Linked DNA regions of Homo sapiens. The protein of the gene in region 1 interacts with the protein of each later gene in a biochemical or structural test. Each region holds a gene or a part of one and is shown in the gene's direction. Other genes may lie near its edges.

Region 1 (7,595 bases):
GAGAAGGGGGGTCTTCCCAGCAGAAAAGACTGGCTGGTGGTGGATGTGCCGGATTTTATAGTTCGGTTTGAGGAGGCAGTGTCTGATTTACCTAGGGCTCACAGACTGGTTCGATCAGGTGTGACGTTTACATAGCAAGTGGGGAAGACTGGTCGCCCCATGCTAATCTTATTATGCAAATGAATTCTCCCTTTGGCCTGCACCATCTTTTCTGGTCCTCACTGTACACATGGCTGGGAGAAAAGGGAAGTTGGAGCCGCCATCTTGAATATGTTTAGACCCTAGTTCCTGCTGACATTGACCTGTGCAAGCTCCCAGCTTGCTTGTCTATATCTGCAGCTCCACTTTACAGGCTGCTCTTTGTTAGAAAATGATTTGGTACTGCTTTTCATTATAAAGGAAAGTCTTTCCAAGGACTCCCATACCCTTACTATTTGCCTAAGTGATTTCTTCTTAACTCCTGTATCACAAAGTCTGCTCAAATTCAAAGAGATGGAGAAAGAAACTCCATCTCTTTTCGGGGGAGTGGCAATATCACACTGCAGAAGAGCTTGGAAGATAGGAGATGCTGAACTGTCCATCTTTGGACAATACACTCCACAACACCATCTGAAGTATTTTTCTACTGCTCCTATGCCCAAGGAGCCTTCTTTTGTACTGTCTAACATCTAACCCCTCATTTCTGTTTCCATTGCCGCAATGAATTCAGGCCCTCATCACTTTGTAGCTAGCTCATTGTCAGAGCTATCTTCCTGGTCTTCAATTTCGCTATCCTGCCAATAGCCTTAAAATTTGTGTTTTCTTACCATGGGTCTTTACACACACTTTGACTTTGATGATCTCATTCTCTTAAGTAAAATTCAGCTCTGGTACCCCATCCTGTAGGAAAAATTGCAAGTGGCTGGCAAGTGGTCTCGTTGACTTGTGTGGTTGGCACAAATATGATTTACATTAAAAGAAATTTTTTTGGTCAGGCGCAGTGGCTCACGCCTGTAATCCCAGCACTTTGGGAGGCCAAAGCGGGCGGATCATGAGGTCAGGAGATCGAGACCATCCTGGCCAATATGGTGAAACCCCATCTCTACTAAAAATACAAAAATTAGCTGGGTGTGGTGGTGCGTGCCTGTAATCCCAGCTACTCGGGAGGCTGAGGCACGAGAATCGCTTGAACCCAGGAGGCAGAGGGTTGCAGTAAGCCAAGATCGTGCCACTGCACTTTAGCCTGGTGACAGAGCGAGACTCCATCTCAAAAAAAATTTATTATTATTATGGGTAAATCATAGCTGTACATATTTATGGGGTACATGTGATGTTTTGATACAGGCATAGAATATGTAATGAGCAAATCAGGGTAATTGGGCTATCCATCACCTGAAGCATTTATCATTTCTTTGTGTTAGGAACATTCCAATTCCACTCCTTTAGTTATTTAAAAATATACGGTAAATTATTTTTAACTATAGTCACCCTATTGTGCTACCAACAGTAGATCTTATTCATTCTAATCCATTTTTATATGATTTACATTTTTATAAGCTTTCATACTGCAAAATCAGATTTTGTATAGAAATCCAGATTAAACTGTTTGAAAAACTTAGTTCTTATATATGAAATAATTGAATTATTCAACTCATGTGTTCTAGATACTGAACAAAAGAGAAAAGAAGCCCTGTCCTTATGTCATATACATTTTAGTTGTGGGGAGGCAGACAATAGGCAAAATAAATAAAATATATAGAATATGGATGGTGGTAAGCTCTGTGGGGCATTCGGAAGGGGATGAAGAAAGGAATGGATAGGAAAGACTGCAATTTAAAATCACATGGTCATGGAAGGCCTCACTGAAATGGTGACATTTGAATTTAAAAACTGAAGACACTGACTGAGAGAAATGTGGATTTCTAGAACTGCACTATCCAACATGGTAGCCACTAGCCATATGCTGCTATCTAAATTTATATGAATTAAAATTAAACAAAGTTAAAAATTCAGTTCCTCAGTCACCCTAGCCATGTTTCAAGTGCTCAGCAGTCACATGTGGCTAGTAGCTGCAAAACAGATAACAGAAAATGTGCATCATTGTAGAAAGTTCTGTTGGACAGCATTGCAGAGGACTCTCATTCCAGACAGGGCACAGCGAGTATAAAGGTTGCTTGATTTGAGTTAAACAGTGACGTGGCTCTTCTGTGTACACATCCTACTATTCCCTGTTGTTTGCCTATTTTTATCCTGAAGCTAAATGGCATTTGTCATTTATCACCTTAACCTAAACCAATTTTCCAAAGGCCCTTCTTGAACTTTAGACGCTTGGTCTATCCCATAGAATCTAAGGAATGCTGGCCTTGCATTGAGCAACTGTGTGAATGGGTTTGAAGACCAGGAACCTGGACCAGGAGACGGAACACGTGTTCTACTTTGGAGTAGAGTAAGTTCATGGTATGATTCAATGTTGTCATTGGGGTGATGGGGCGCAAGCACCCACTAATCTGAGTGTCCTGGAGGGCTTCTAGTGGGCCAGGTGTTCACCCTTTAGTTGTATGTCATGGGGAAGTTGGAGGTATGGGGGTGAGTGGCACTCTGGGGCTCAAGACAACGACCAATTACCAACTGGAGCTGCAATATCTTAACACTGTAAAAACGGATAGAGTCTGACATGGTAACATACAAATGCAATTTCAGCCTTGGATAAATGCATGTGATAGGTATTTGGAAACTGTAATGGACTATGGAGTCCTATTATAAAGTCCTTTCCAGTTAACACACACAGCTTAAGGTGACAGGGTTTAAGGCCTTCTGCAGTGTGTTACTAGCATCCATTCTGGTATCTTCTCTTACTTCTTCATTATGTCATCTTTCCCTTCACTAGCATGACATATTTTCAGTGCCCAGTGAGTTCTGTGTGATACCACCTTTGTGTTTTTCTCATGTCTTTCTCTCTTTTTTTTTTTCTTTTTTGAGACGGAGTCTCACTCTGTCGCGCAGTGGCGCAATCTTGGCTCACTGCAAGCTCCGCCTGCCGGGTTCACGCCATTCTCCTGCCTCAGCCTCCCGAGTAGCTGGAACTACAGGCGCCCACCACCACGACCGGCTAATTTTTGTATTTTTAGTAGAGACGGGGTTTCACCTTGTTAGCCAGGATGGTCTCGATTTCCTGACCTCGTGATCCGCCCGCCTCAGCCTCCCAACGTGCTGGGATTACAGGCGTGAGCCACCGCGCCCGGCCTCATGTCTTTCTTCCTTACTTGAAGGACACCTACCCTCCTTCTGCCTGGTTGAATCTTCCCCACTCACCCTTAAGGTGCAGTTTAAACTTCCTTCCTTTCGTGGATTTAGCTTTGCCCATCCCAGGCCAGAAGCATTTCTCTCTCCTGTGGCCTGAAGTGGTCTTACCTACACTTACTTGGCAATTAGCAAGAGTACAAGTGCAATATCTTTGTTTTTCTGGATGTTTGTCTACTCCTAGGTTAAGTCTTACCTTCCTTAAGGGCAGAGGTCACAGTTCGTTCCTCCTTTTTTGTTACATGGCATGTTTTTATACATATTTGCCAAGCACCTACCATGTGAGTGGCTGAGGGCACAATGGTAAACCAACTCTGGACCCTGACCTCCTACGATTCTTGTCATTTTTTAAAAATGTGAATAAGCTTATTCAACTTTTGTAAGTCTTAGACAAAGATGGGGATCCCAGCGCCCCACTGATGAGAAGTCAACACCCTGGCTGGCCCTTGTTGAAGACAGATTGAGCTGAGATGTGAACATTCACACTCCCTGGCGTTTAAGGCACTGCTGGAATAGTTTCACTCTCAATGATCCAGAATTCCTGCCTCCTGGAAGGGTGTAAACAATGATTCACACCACGGCAGGCCTTTACAGTTCACCAAGCACATTCATCACAGCAGCGGGCTTTCAGGGAAGGTCAGGTTCTGACATGCTAACAGAGATTCACCTTCAGGTCACCAGACTTGCAGCTACTCTGCTCAACACCTATCATAACCAACAAAAGTTTTCTCCCTTCGTCCTTTAAGGATGCGTGTGCCAAGAAGGGTCGGCGCAAAGCAATTTTGCCTCATGGTGTTTGCCTTGTAGCGTGTCTATTTTGAAGTTCCTTGGCCAAAACAGTTCCCAGGAGTAAAGATTACGATGAGGGGCCAGGCTGTGCAAAACGCGCGGGAGGGCGGACGACTCTCCAGCACACTTGGTTGAAGTCCAAGTCAACCCCTGGCTATTCGAAGAAGTGAAGCAGGACTTTTCAGCCTAAGGGGTAGGGGGACAGGGACAGGACAGAAGAGCGGGTTTGCCGGAGATTCTGGGAATTCTGCACCTGTGGATGAGCCGGTGCCCAAGGTGCCCTCTTCCTCCCGGGTCCCGAGTGGGAGATCCGAGGGGGACAGGTCCCAGGCAGCTTTCGCAGGCGAAAGGGCGGGGCGGGGCGGGGCCCGCGCACCTGGGCGGGGAGGGGAGGAGAGAGGAGGGGAGGGGAGGCGCGCGGGGCTGAGCCTCGCGGGGGCCGCGGCGCGCGCCAATGGGCAGCGGCTGGCAGCGCGCCCCGCGCCCGAGCCGCAGTCGCGCCCTCTCGCTTCCTGGCGAAGGCGCGGACGGCGCGCGGAGGCGAGCGCGGTGGAGAGGAGCCCCCGGCGCCGCAGCGCCGTCAGGGCATGAGGATGGCCGTGGGCTCCGTCAAGATGCAGCCGCCGTGCGAGAGCCCGGCCCTGGCCGCCGCGGCGGCGGTGGTGGCGGCAGACGGCCCCCTGCGCCGCAGCCCCAGCGCCCGGGAGCCCGAGCGCGAGCAGCCGCCGGCGTCGCTGCGGCCGCGGCTGAGGGACCTGCCCGCGCTGCTGCGGAGCGGGCTCACGCTGCGGAGGAAGCGGAGCGCCGCTGGGGGCCGGGTGAGTGGCCCGGCCCTGTCCGAGTGGGCACGGGCGGCGCGCACGTGGAGCCCGCGCCCACCCCCCGGGCCGCTGAGGGGGGCGTCTGGAAGTTGGGGAGGTGGCGGAAGGGACGCCCTTCTGCCGGACTCGGCTGAAGAGGGGCCCGGGACGGCGGGTTTTGAGGTGCCACCCCCTGAGCGACGGCTTCCCCCGCCCCCACACCTCCCCCCCACCAGGCTGCACCTGACTTAACCCCAGGGCCCCCAGATTCAGGCTGCGGGACCGGGCATCGGCTGAAGACGAGCTGTTTGCCTCTTCTCGGAGGGGAAGCTGCAGGTGTCCAGCGTCCAACAGCCAGCCAGCCCTGTCCCAACCGCAAGCTTCAGGCCCCACGAGCGGCATCCCTGTTTGCAGGACGCATGCGACGTGTGTGCTTGTTTTGGAGGTGCTGTTGCAAGCTCTGGGCATCGAGACTGGTTTTGGTGGTCTCCACCGCCGAGGGGCAGACCCAGGAGTCGGAAGCTCTTGGGTGAGCTTCCAGTTCCTGGGTTCCGGTGTCTCCAGCACTTAATACTCCTGGACACCCTCTTGAGCAGGAGGGTGCACGCCCCCAAGAACCTTCAATATTGACTTCCTGATGGTGTGTTCAGATACGATTTCCTGGTGAAGGAGTGTCCCTCATTGAGTTCTAAGTGCATCTAATGACCTGAGCAGGTCAGGCATGTTTTGTATTTTTAAGAGAAGCAGGAAGGTCTGCTGATTGTCTCCTGGGATCTTTAAGAAGCCACCTAGGAGGCCCCGCCAGGGCCTCAGGACACAGAGCTGACTTACTCAGATTTCCCTGCTCACCAGGGTTTGGCGGCACCTTTGGTGGGTTCTACTCATCTTTTAAAAATTTATTATTAAGTGGTCTTTAATGAGAAGCTGCATCAATGTGGTTTTTCTTTCCCGTTTGGCTGTAATTTTTAAAATGCAGTCTTGTCTGACTTAAAACAAGACCTTGCTGGGAGACTTCTAGCTCTTTCAGAGATGGGTTTGTGTAAACTTGAGAGTGAGGGATAACCACTTGTTTTCATGCGCCCTCCTTTGGGTAGGGAAGGGTCTGAACTGATGTCGGTCTTCAGCTTCTCGAGGCTGCATCTCTCTTTTCCTAGGCATTTTCCATCTCAGGTGGAAAATGGTCCATCCCAGGTCCATCTCAGAAGATGTTCTGAGGATTCTCTGTGTGTGATGGGACATTCTTAAAGTCGGTGACCCAGAGAGTTTAGGAATTGCCCACAAGTGACCTTAACATGTGTGGCATTTAGGATTGCCTGCAAAGTAAGTGAGGAAATGTGTCCCCAAGATGTGGTGTCGGAATAAACAAGAACTGGAGTTATAGACTTTGCAGGAATCCAGGGAAAAGTAGGTCAAATTATGTTTCTATTATCCTTGACGGTTACTTTTTCATGGCACAGAATACTGAAGACATGAGGGCTGCCAGGCAGTCTGCGACAAGAATTGCTGAGGGTTTCTGTATAAATAGATCTATAGTATTTATTTGCGTTCATACTCATGTTTCTTGCTGCCTGGGAGGGTGTCGTATACCTTGTCAATATACCTATTTAGTTTTATTTTTTAATTACTCTGAATGTGGTTACCTCAGATAATGTATGCTTTATTAACCCTCTTTGATTCTAATACTGTATTATTTCTTTTTGGGACTTTCCAAACACATTTCGTAACTGCATAGCCAGTTTTTATTGAAGGAAGTTTGATTGTCAGTTTTTCCAGTGTTGGAAACCCATACTTTTTGACTATTTATTTGACTGTTTATTTCCCCTTTCTTCTGCCTTGGAACTACCTTTGTGATTTTGGAATCTTCCCCATCAAAGGAGTAGGAAGGGGGTTGAAAGAAGGAGAAAAACAAGTGAAATATGAACTTGTCTTAGGCAGCTCAGGCTGTCATAACAAAATACCGTAGACTGGGTGGTTTAAACAACAGGAATTTATTTTCTCACAGCTCAGGATGCTGGGAAGCCTGAGATCAATGTGTAGGCTGATTAGGTTTCTGGTGAGGGCTCTCTTCCTGGCCTGCAGATGACCACTTTCTCGTATATCCTCTCATGGCCTTCCCTTGGTAAACGCAGAGGAAGAGAGGGCTCCCTCTTCTCATAAGGCCACTAATCCCATCATGAGGGCCCCACCATCATGACCTAGTCTAACCCTAAATAATTATCAAAGGCCTCATCTCCAAATAATGTCATGTTTGGGGTTAGGGCTTCAACATAAGAATTTTGTAGGGGGCATACACTTAACAGTCCAAAACACAGGGGGTTTGAAAGAAAGAGAGATACAAGTAGAATATGTATCAGACTGGTTGGTTGGTGACTTGTTAGCATCTGGGATTGTCTGGTTAACCACCTTGGATTGGGCAGTGATGCTAATGCAAACAAATCATGGCTTGGATCTTTTTGTAGACCTTCAGCTTTGTGTCTCATGGGCCATACCTCCAGACTGGAGCTGCGTGACTTCAGGGATAAGTTAACAGAAATCCATTACCACTAGTAAAGACACAGCTTTGTGCATTACATGAGTTAGTTGAGTTTTCATCTCCTATATTGACCAAGATCTGATTTAGGAATATGTGTGGTCCTTATCCATGCTGCCCTGGGCTCCCACAAACCTGGACAATCTGACATCAACTGACATTAACAAAGTTCTTTGTGGGTTGTGTTGCTCAACCCA
Region 2 (3,403 bases), on another chromosome or scaffold:
GGGTGATACTACTTATGTAGTCTCTATAAAGAGAGGTAGAACAAAAAGCTTGTTAGCCAATTAAGTTCTGGAAAAGGAAAGAAACAAGCTTAGAAAACCCTGTGCCTTGTCCTCAAATATTAAGGAGGAGACAGACCAGTCCTAGAAAGTCTAAGTCATTGCTCAGGGATCTCTAGATACTGTCTCTTTGCAACTAGGTATGAAGAAGTGTTCATGCCTTGCTGAGATTTTCCAGGCATGTGGTCAGCCTGTCACTTACTAAACTGAAATTTTAAAATCAGGTTTCAAATGTTAAGCTTTGACCAACCTGAGAAAATGTTAAAGTATTGTTTTTAAAAAAATGGAAATTTTTTTTGTTTGTGTTTTTGTTTTAGTTTCGAATAAACTTAGTTACCTTACACTTCCCTTCTACTTATCCAATTATGCATATGTCTGGGATTGAGGGGCCAAAACTATAGCGAACTTGAATGAAGTATTAGGGCCAGTTGTCAGGTCAGGGTGGCATCTTTTATTTTAAGGTCCTCTAAAGTCATTCTGCTTTAAAACACCCCTCAAACATACCTTTAAACTTAAGATCATAGACAGACATCTCATCAACCAGTAAAACTTTCTAAATACTACCTTGTCACATCTATTGTGTAGTTATTTAACAGATTAAATAGAAGTCATTTAATAAGACTCCAAGTCTCAGTCTGCTTGACTAGTAGCATAAACTCAGTCTATTCTATTTTAGAATGTGGTGGAGAAAGATGATAGTTATTAGATTCCTTTGTCACATCTTATACAGTCCACTTGGGTTAAAGGTGGAACTGTCAAGAAAAACGCCTTTCTGGCACACAGTGATATGCAGAGCAGGACCAGCTGAAGTCAGATGTGCAAGGAAATCTGTGGTTGCTGAGCAGGATGAAAAGTATCCTGTTAGAAAGTGAGATAGGTGTGTTTTTATATTGTCCTAATGTGAACTCCTTAGTCTTGGTTCCAAAGGGAAGGGTACCTGAAAATAAATGTATTTTTATAGCTGAAAAATCAAGAGTTTCTAGGATATTGTGTGAATGTCAAATGATAAATATCTAGAAACTGATTTCATATTAGTATGTGTGGCTATTTAAAGTATAATGACTTTGGTTTGGTTATATGAGTGACACAGAATTTAAGGAGGCTTCATGCCATAGTTCATAGTTTGCTCTAATGGCTTGGTGGTATCCCTGAACAGTCTACTTTTAGAAATTAACAGTAAATACACAATCCAGCTGTAATCTTACCCTCCACCAGGGGGAGCTTCAACATCGGTTAATACTTTTTTTTTTTTTGAGATGGAGTCTCGCCCTGTCGCCCAGGCTAGAGTGCAATGGCTCAGTCTCCGCTCACTGCAACCTCTGCCTCCCGGGTTCAAACAGTTGTGCCTCAGTCTTCCAAGTAGCTGGGATTACAGGCACCCGCCACCACGCCCAGCTAATTTTTGTATTTTTAGTAGAGACGGGGTTTCATCATGTTGGCGAGGCTGGTCTTGAACTCCTGACTTCGTGATCCGCCCCCCCCTCAGCCTCCCAAAGTGCTGGGATTACAGGCGTGAGCCACCGCGCCTGGCCCGGTTAATACTTTCATAAGCATTGAAGTAACTATTTAAGTCCTAGTACATAAACACTGTGTGGTTCACAAAAAGGCATAGAGACATTCTCTCAAGAGTTTACAATCTAATTGGGCAGGGAAGATACTACAGTTCATCAAAGATATGAATAACACCCTAGTTTTCTGAACTGCAGCTGCATGGGTAATTATCTTAAGAACTTTTGGCAAAATATGGATGTTGGTGTGTTACTCTCTTCTCCCTACAACTCTGAACTAATCTGTGTTTGGCACCTTGATTTGCCATCATAAATGGCCACCATTTACTCCTCACTGAAATATTCTTCTTCTTTGAGGTTATAATGTACTTGGAAAAGTTAATACTTATAGAAAATAATGATCTTTATTACCAACTTTATTAAAACAGGCTTGGAACATTTTTCTCCATAGAAGAATAGTAATAAGACATTCTACATTTCCTGGACATGGCCAGTTTAAAATATTTTGCCCCATTACCCTTGTAGATACACATGTATTTGTCAGTTTATGTGCCTCAGTTTTGTCTTAGGCACTGAGGGACAGAAAGAGAAATAAGGAATACCTTGGTATTTTCCTTTGCAAGCAATCACAGCAGAATGCTAGAAAACATAAAATATACTCTTATAAATTGTATGTGTGTTGAAACCAAAGTGTGAAGAAATTGTCAGGTATTTGGAGGAGGAAAATAATTTGTAAAATAACCTTTTTAAGAATTTGGATTTTGTACTTATTTAAGGTGCTAAATATGTGTTAAAATATCCCCTCTTGAATCAGCTCCAGGCTTAAAAGGGCAGAGTGGTTTGGATTCTTGTCCAGGGTCTGGAAAGAGCTCATCTTGCCGAGAGGGAAATAAATGTGAGCTTTGAGGCGGTCTAACTACCCAGCTTTTAGTATTTATGTTCCCCAAAATGTAAAAACTGTAAGTTATTCTTGAAAATGTAGTCCAGACATTTCTTTGATCCTGGATTTTACTGCAGTTTCATCATGGGTTTGTTGAATGTGCAGTCCATTTATTGCCCTGTCTTGCTTAAATATTCTTGTTGAGAACAGCTGGAGGCTTTGACTGGGTTCCTAGTTCTGTTTTCTGGGAAGGCAACGTGGATTCTGTTTTGTAGACATTAATGAGCTTTAAATGGGAATTGGGGATGATGTATGTTCGTTGGGCATGCTGAGAAGCGGCCTCCTGTGGTTCTGGGCCCAAGGTGTGACATACATTTCCCACTAATTGCTTCTCTCAAGAAGCAAGAGATTGGCTGTTCCTCTTGAGGAAAAACCTTAATAAACCTTCCCATTTTAAACAGTGGTGTGACTCTTATTTTGAGCTGTTGTTTTCAATGAATTTTTTTAAAGCTTACCATGTTCAAATTTTTGTGCTGAATGTTGTAGGACATGCAAATCAGAACAGGACATGATCCTTAGGGGCCTACCAACAAATATTCATTGCACTTCTACTGTATGGCAAGTGCTGATCTGCATGCCGCGGAAACAACAGTGAACAGTACAGACTCAGATCCCTTTCCTCGTGGAGTTTTTATCTTTAGAAAATGGTAAAAGATAACTTGTGTAATGATGAGTGCTTTGAAGAAGAATTAAGCCGTGTAAAGGGGCAAGAGTACTGGGCAGAGGTGGTGGTAGTGGGTTAATATCTCATTGAAGTTGATACTCGAGTAAGTGTTCAAAGTGAGCAGCCCATGCAACTGCCTGGGGGAAAGGAGGATTTTCCATTCCTTGGGGAAAGGGTCTGTGCCAATGCCATGAGGTGGACATGTGCCTGGTGTGTTGAAGACTGGCAAGGAGG
Region 3 (7,361 bases), on another chromosome or scaffold:
GCCTGATTCTTAGTCTACCAGCTGTGTAGGATTGGGCTCACAGTCTCCTTATATCTAAGACAGGGCTCAGATGACCTACAGCACAGGGTCAGACCCATCACTATGTCTGGTGTCAGGCACGCTGTGAGTGCTCAGAAACTCACGGCTTCTTTTACCCTTAGGGAATACACTGAAGTTGGGAGGTTTTTTGTTTGTTTGTTTGTTTGTTTGTTTTTGAGACAGAGTTTCACCCTTGTTGCCCAGGCTGGAGTGCAATGGTGCGATCTCGGCCCACTGCAACCTCCACCTTCTGGGTTCAAGTGATTCTCCTGCCTCAGCCTCCCAAGTAGATGGCATTACAGGCATGCGCCACCATGTTTGGCTAATTTTGTGTTTTTAGTAGAGGTGGGGTTTCACCATGTTGGTCAGGCTGGTCTCAAACTCCTGACCTGAGGTGATCCACCTGACTCGGCCTCCCAAAGTGCTGGGATTACAGATGTGAGCCACCGCGTCTGGCCTGAAGCTGGGAGTTCTAGAGGAAGGCTGGGCCACAATGACCTGGTTGACTTCCAGCCCCAAGGTCCCAAGCCCCCACGTTTGCTGCTGAACTAGGCACCAGTTTGGATTGGCTCTGAGGCATGGCACTCAGCAAGCCTCAGGGCAGAGAGGCAAGTGTAGGACATGTTGCAGTGGATGAAGTATGTTTGTTTTGTCCTGCTCTGGGTCAGTTCAGTGGCTCTGACTTTAGCCAGAAATTGGCTCCTGGCCCTGTGTCTGACCTTGGACCTCTGTGGATTAAATTTGGGCCTGAGCCTTGCCTGGGTTTTTGGCTAGGTGTCTGGCCTTCTGCCATGCCTCAAACACACCTGATCAGCCAGGCACATCTGCCAGAGACTTTGGAAAGACTTCTGCTCAATCATCCTTCAGCATATAAGGTTTTCTCCTTCCCTTCTCAGCCTAGCTAATTTTTGTTTTTTGAGATGGAGTTTCACTCTGTCCCCCAGGCTGGAGTGCAGTGGCAGGATCTCAGCTCACTGCAACTTTCGCCTCCCGGGTTCAAGCAATTCTCCTGCCTCAGCCTCTCTAGTAGCTGGGACTACAGGCACCCGCCACCACACCTGGCTAATTTTTGTTTTTTTTTTAGTAGAGACGGGGTTTCACCATATTGGCCAGGTTGGTCTTGAACTCCTGACCTTGTGATCTGCCTGCCTTGGCCTCTCAAAGTGCTGGGATTACAGGCATGAGCCACCACACCCGGCCCTAGCTAATTGTTATTTGTCCTTCCAGATGTGGCTCAGTCATCAGCTCTCACAGAAGTCCTTCCCTTGGCACTTGCCTCCTCGCCATATTGGATTAGGTGCCCTTCCTCTGGTCTTCCACAGTCCCTGTGCTTCTCTGTTCCACACCACTTGCTCCTCAGTTGGCACTCAGCTTGCTTGAAGGCAGGTCTCTGCCCCAGTGCCCGGTACTCAGTAGATGCTCTGGCAGTGTTTACTGGATGAATGAAGCTTTTCTGCTCAGTGGCTCTGTTCTCTAAGCCCCCATTTGCCAGCAACTGAGCCACAACTTGTATTTCAAGGTTCAAAGAGCAGAGGAGGCAGCTCAAATGGAACAGCCCATCCGCAATCGCAATCTGCAAGATTTACTCTCACCATTAGGCAATCTTAGGTAGGTCAAGCACAGTGTCTCACACTTGTAATCCCAGCACTTTGGGAGACCCAGATAGGTGGATTGCTTGAGTCCCAGGAGTTCGAGATCAGCCTCGGGAACATCTCTACAAAAAGTACAAGAAGTAGCCAGGCATGGTGGTGCACACCTATAGTCCCAGCTACTCAGGATGCTGAGGTAAGAAGATGTCTTGAGTCCGGGAGGTCGAGGCTGCAGTGAGCTATGATGCTATGATCATGCGACTGCATTATAGCCTGGGTGACAGAGCGAGACTCTGTCTCAAAAAAAAAAAAAAAAAAAAAAAAAAAAAAGGAGAATCCCAGGTACCTGGGTATGACTATTAGCTGTTTAAGTTCCATTTCTGAGAAGAGGTATTATTACAGATATGTGTATAAAAGCAGTATAAAGACATCTCTTTGACTCTTGCATAGATGTTGGCTCAGCTCAAGCTGAGGGCATGGTCAGGGTCTTGTGCCAGTCAGGGCCCAAGAGAGGACATCTCTTACATGGGGAGCCCACGAGGGGCTGACAGGCCACCAGGATGTACAGATCCCTGCCCGCCTTCCCAAGTTCTGTGGTAAATAGAGGGGGTTGAGGGAGTCAGGTTCCAGGGCAAACCTAGACAGTCGAGGTAAACTACTGTCCCTCAAGCCTTCTCCCCAACCAGGTCTTTTACTCCCTACTGCCAAGGAGAGATACTCTTGATGGCACCCAACCTGCTGTCCCCTTCCTGGGGGACACTTGGGGTCTACAGGGTCTTTGGAGCAGCAGGTGGGAGTGGAGGCACAGGGGGTGCACAGCAGCTCCCACCAAATGGCTGCATGGGTGGCTGGGATGCCAAAGGAAGCCTGCATGGGATTAAGAGCCTCAGCATGGCAGGCAGAGCCAGCAGCACTGTGAGGCTCCCTTAGGCCTGGGGCAAACCTGAGAAGGGAGTGGGTTCCCTGGACATGTAAAGCTGGTTCTAAGTCATTGAGGTCCACCCAGAAAAAGAATGTCCTCAGAAATGATGCTGACAATCAAAACCACAATGAAATGCCATTTCGCCCCCAATAGGATGACTAGAATAAAAAAAGACACACAATTACAAGTGTTTGCAAAGATGTGGAGATATTGGAACCCTCATATGTTGTTGGTGGGAATGTAAAATGGTGCAGCTGCTTTGGAAAACAGTTTGGCAGTTCCCCCAAAAGTTAAACATGGAGTTAACATATGATCCAGGAATTCCACTCTTAGGTATATACCCAAGAGAAAGAAAAGCATATGTTCATACAAAGACTTGTACATGAATATTCATAGCAGCTTTATTCACAGTAGCCCCAAAGCAGAAAACTAAATATCCATCAAGTGATGCAGGGATAAACAAAACGTATAGACATACAGTGAAATATTACTCAGTCATGAAAAGGAATGAAGTACTGCTACATGTTACAACATGAATAGATCATTAAACATTGGTTACTGAAAGAAGCTAGTCATAGTCACAAAAGGCCACATGTTGTATGATTCCGTTTATAGAAAATGTCCTGAATAGGGAAATCCATAGAGATTGAAAGTAGATTAGTGGTTCCCAGAGGCGGAGGAAAGGGGTGAATGAGGAGTGACTGCTAACGGGTAGTTCTTTTTGTGAGGGGCAGGGGAGGGGAGTGGGAAGTGGTGAAAATGTTCTGGAATTAGCTCATGGTGATGGTTGCAAAACTTTGTGAATATGCTAAACACCACTGAATCGTACACTTTTTTTTTTTTGAGACAGCGTCTCACTCTGTTGCCCAGGCTAGAGTGCAGTAGCGCAATCTCGGCTCACTACAACCTCTGCCTCCCGGGTTCACGTGATTCTCCTGCCTCAGCCTCCCGAGTAGATGAGATCACAGGCACGTGCCGCCATGCCGGGTTGACTTTTGTATTTTTAGTAGAGACGGGGTTTCACCATGTTGCCTAGGCTGGTCTTGAACTCCTGACCTCAGGCGATTCACCCGCCTCGGCCTCCCAAAGTGTTAGGATTACAGGCGTGAGCCACCGCGCCCGGCTTGAATTGTACACTTCAAAAGGTGGAATTTTATGGTGTTGAATTATATCTTTATTTTTTTAACGGGGGGAAAATGACGCCGCTGGAGAGGAGTTAGCGGAACTGAAACAATGAAATGGTGCGCGAGTGTCGCCTGTCCCCGTCGCATCCATCCCAACGAAGTTTGGGCCCTGGAACGGTGCACCCAGAAGGCCTGCGGGGAGAGACGCTGGGGCATGATCTGGAAGAAAGACGTCTCAGGATTCGAAGGGAATGCAGCTAAGGTGGCGGCGGAGGTTCGCCTAGGACTGGGGAGGCGTCCCTAGGCTCAGAAGTTGGCCCGGCCGGAGCGGAGATTTAAAGGTTGGAGCGCAGAGGCTCTTAAAGAGGCCGAGTCGAATTCCCACTCGGCGTCCACCTTAAAGCCAGCTCCCCGGCACCACGGATCTGACCCGGGTAAGTGCTGGGCCGCGGGAGAGGCTGCGGCGCCGACCCCAGCCCCTGGCGCTCTAGCGCGCCCTGCCGGGCCCAGGGGACTCGGCGCGGGTGGGCTGGACTTCGTAGGCGCGCGTCCTGGGGGCCGGGGTGCACGCGGGGGCGACAGGGTCGAGGCACCCGGCCCGGGCTCCCCACTGGCGCGCCCGCAGCGGCGCTCTATTTTTAGCAGGCGCTGTGGCAATATAAGGAATGCGCGGCGCGCTAGGCGCTCGGGGCGCACGCTGGCGGCGCGGTCGCTTTAAGGAGGCGCCGGGGCGGGGACGGACCGGAGTGGCCGGCTGGCGGGGAGCCGTCAGTCCGGCGGCCGCGGGGCCCGGCGGGCGCGACGCTGCCTCCTCACCGGCGCAGGCTAGGAGGGGGCGGCCTGAGTGCCGTAGCCGAGCCGGGGCTGGAGCGCGCGGTGAGTGGTCGGGCGGCCTTGGAGGGGAGGGGGCCCGGCCGCGCCGCCTCTCGCCCCGGCCGTCGCTTTGTTCCGGGGCGGGAGGTGTGGCCGCCCTCCGGGCTCGGCCGCGCTCTCCGCTTGCGGGGTGCGCCCTGGGACCGGCTGTGCGTGGCGTTTTGCCCCCATCGCGGGCTCCCGCGTAACGGTGTGCGTTCGTGAAATCGGCCACGACCAAGACCCCAGTGGGGAGGGCCTGCGCGCCGCTCAGAGAGACCCTTTCATGGTAATTACAGTTCCTTGGCTGCCTGGGCGAGAACCCGGTGGATAGATGGGCGGCAGGACGGGGCGGCGGGGGATGGGTGGGTGGGTGGGGGACTCTTTACCCCCCCGCCTTAAGATGGCGTTAACGAGGGGAGGGATCCGCCAGGGAGTTGACAAATTCATCTGAATAATAAAACGCAGCCTGCTTCATAAACAACCCTTCACTGCCCCCGGAGGTTTGGGGAGCTGGAGCTGTGGTCACAACTAGGGCCTGGGCTCATGCATTGAACTGATCTGGCTGAGGCATCAGACACGGTGCCAGTCCTGCCCTGCGGGGAAGACAAGAGCACAAAGTGACAAGCCAGTGTGGTAAGTGCTGAGATTCGGTAAGCCCAGGGGTTGTGGGAGCCCCTAGGGGTCCCTACTGCAGAGTGGGAGGTGAGAGAAGGCCGCCTAGAGGAGTTAATGTCTGGCTGGCCGCAGCGTATACACTGGACACCCAGTTAGACTCTGGCTAGAGCTGAGGTCTGTTCTGGCCTGGGGCAAAGTGGAGTCTGGAGAGGTGGACAGAGTCCATCAAGGCCACTGGGGCCTTGATCATAGAGCTCTGCCATTGCCCCTACTCCCCAATGGCCCCTGATGGTGTGGAACCTCCCTGGCCTTGCTCCTCTAGGACTCACTCTGTCCTGGACCTGACCAGAGAGGGTGGCTGACAAGGCTCGGAATCGTGGCCTCCAGAGGTTTGTCTGGCAGCAGAAGTAAGATGGAGATATGACTTTAAGAGCTCTGAAACTCCACTGTAATAACAGCAACCAACAGGGCTTCCAAAGACCAGGCACTTGAAGTGGATTTGCTCATCATTTGACAAGACACCTCTTGACAAGACACCTCCAGAAGGATTTTGTTTATTGTAAAGGATGGAGGAACTGGGGTGAAAAAGAGCCAACAGCTTGCCCAAGATCATATCTGAAGTCCATGCTTTTGGCCACGTGGCTGTCCTGGGCTTCGGAAGGCTCTGGTGCAGCCTGTGTTAGAGTTTTGTAATATATTGTTTTATAATTATTCACTATAGACATTCACTGGTGGGTTGAAGTGTGAGGCAGTGAGCTGTGGGTATTAATAACTGACTCGTGTCAGAAGCTTAGCAGTGAACAAAGCACTTTCTCGGATACGGTTCTTAGAGCTTCTCCTGCTTCTTTTCCCGGGGAAGAAACTTGAGCTGCTAACATTTTGTAAACCTCCTAATTTCCTGTAAATCACATGTCCCTGCTGAGTGGGGCTGAAAATGTTTCGGGCAATGGTTTTCACCCTTAGGTCTGTTCACACTGCCCAGCAGCCAGTTAGCTTCTCTCTGTAGTTTATGGTGTAGTTTGTCCTTTTTCTGCCGGGGTGGGAGGCATGGGGCTTTCATGCTCTGGGGTTTTTGAGGTCTGCCAGCCTCTGGGGAGGGAGGTGTTGGGCAAGCCTCGTGCTCTGGTGGAAACTGACCCCCTAGATGTGACCTCGGCATTTCCTAAAGCTGGGGGCGGGACTGGGGTAGGCGGTAGTCAAGGCCCTTTGGTGAAGCAAGCGATTGTCTCCAGCGTTGTCAGCTTCGCTCCTCCATAAGACAGTTGCTAATTTCCACCTCTGTTTTCACCTACATAAGACACTTTATGACAGGTTTAACTTTTATGTTATTATTAGCTCTAGCCACTGGTATTTCATACTCAGTTCGTCTGAGCTACTTATAAAGTGACAAGTCCAGCCAGGGCAACATGGTGAAACTCCGTCTCTACAAAAATTAGCTGGGCCTGGTGGCATGCACCTGTAGTCTTAGCTACTTGGGAGGCTGAGGTGGGAGGATTGCTTAAGCCCAGAAGGCAGAGGTTGGAGTGAGCCATGATCACGCCACTGCACTCCAGCTTGGGTGACAGAGCAAGACCCTGTCTCAAAAAAAAAAAAAAAAAAAAAAGTGACAAGTCAGTTACCCTTGGGGTTGGTTTGGTTCCTAAGCTCTAGTGATCACCTGGAACCAGGAATGACTATTGGCCTCTGATAAATTAGGCTCCTGGGATGACTGGTCCTAACCTCAGTCAGAATCACATGTTGACCAGCCTCCTGGATCTAGTGAGTTCTCAGGGAAATGTGGCTTCCATAATATATTTCACATCAGATTTAACCATTGTAATCTGTTCTGCCAATGAAATGCCCCCAAACAGAGTGTGTCTCCCTGAAAGCAATTGAAAAACATACCTGCTCATGAGCATTGTGTAGTTTGTACAAGCATACTCATGTGAACTGAATGGGAATGCATTCTTGTGCAATGCTGGAATGTTCTTAAGTGTCCAGAGGATGTGCATTGAGTTCCAGAGGCTCTGTACCTGCCAGGCCCTGGGCAGGCATAGAAGGTACAGTCACCTTTATCTGGAGACAGGTAAAAAAGGAGCTGGAGGAGTTCCCTGAGACCTGGGACACCTGGCAGGTACCCATTGTCTAGGGACTCAGCAGAGAATTCAAGCTTTAAGAGGAATTTTCTTGCTGGACTCTGAGTCCCTGTCAGCCCTCCTAAGTCTTAGATCATGCCTC

The links. The genes of interacting proteins can lie anywhere in the genome.
Region 2: of the proteins of RAPGEF5 (region 1) and RAP1A, one has a biochemical effect on the other in vitro, tested with the Homo sapiens proteins (2 studies listed by BioGRID).
Region 3: the proteins of RAPGEF5 (region 1) and MRAS form a complex in vitro, tested with the Homo sapiens proteins (one study listed by BioGRID).

The regions. Positions count from the first base shown.
Region 1 is NC_000007.14:22,354,121-22,361,715, reverse strand, and holds the start of RAPGEF5 (rap guanine nucleotide exchange factor 5), read left to right. Parts: upstream 1-4,561; 5' UTR 4,562-4,655; coding exon 4,656-4,886; intron 4,887-7,595. UniProt on the Homo sapiens protein: Guanine nucleotide exchange factor (GEF) for RAP1A, RAP2A and MRAS/M-Ras-GTP. Its association with MRAS inhibits Rap1 activation.
Region 2 is NC_000001.11:111,713,789-111,717,191, forward strand, and holds the end of RAP1A (ras-related protein Rap-1A precursor), read left to right. Parts: 3' UTR 1-2,903; downstream 2,904-3,403. UniProt on the Homo sapiens protein: Counteracts the mitogenic function of Ras, at least partly because it can interact with Ras GAPs and RAF in a competitive manner. Together with ITGB1BP1, regulates KRIT1 localization to microtubules and membranes.
Region 3 is NC_000003.12:138,344,218-138,351,578, forward strand, and holds the start of MRAS (ras-related protein M-Ras isoform 1 precursor), read left to right. Parts: upstream 1-4,361; 5' UTR 4,362-4,550; exon of another isoform or gene 4,551-4,815; intron 4,816-4,994; exon of another isoform or gene 4,995-5,162; intron 5,163-5,466; exon of another isoform or gene 5,467-7,361. UniProt on the Homo sapiens protein: Signal transducer in the Ras-MAPK signaling pathway that regulates cell proliferation and survival. Core component of the SHOC2-MRAS-PP1c (SMP) holophosphatase complex that regulates the MAPK pathway activation.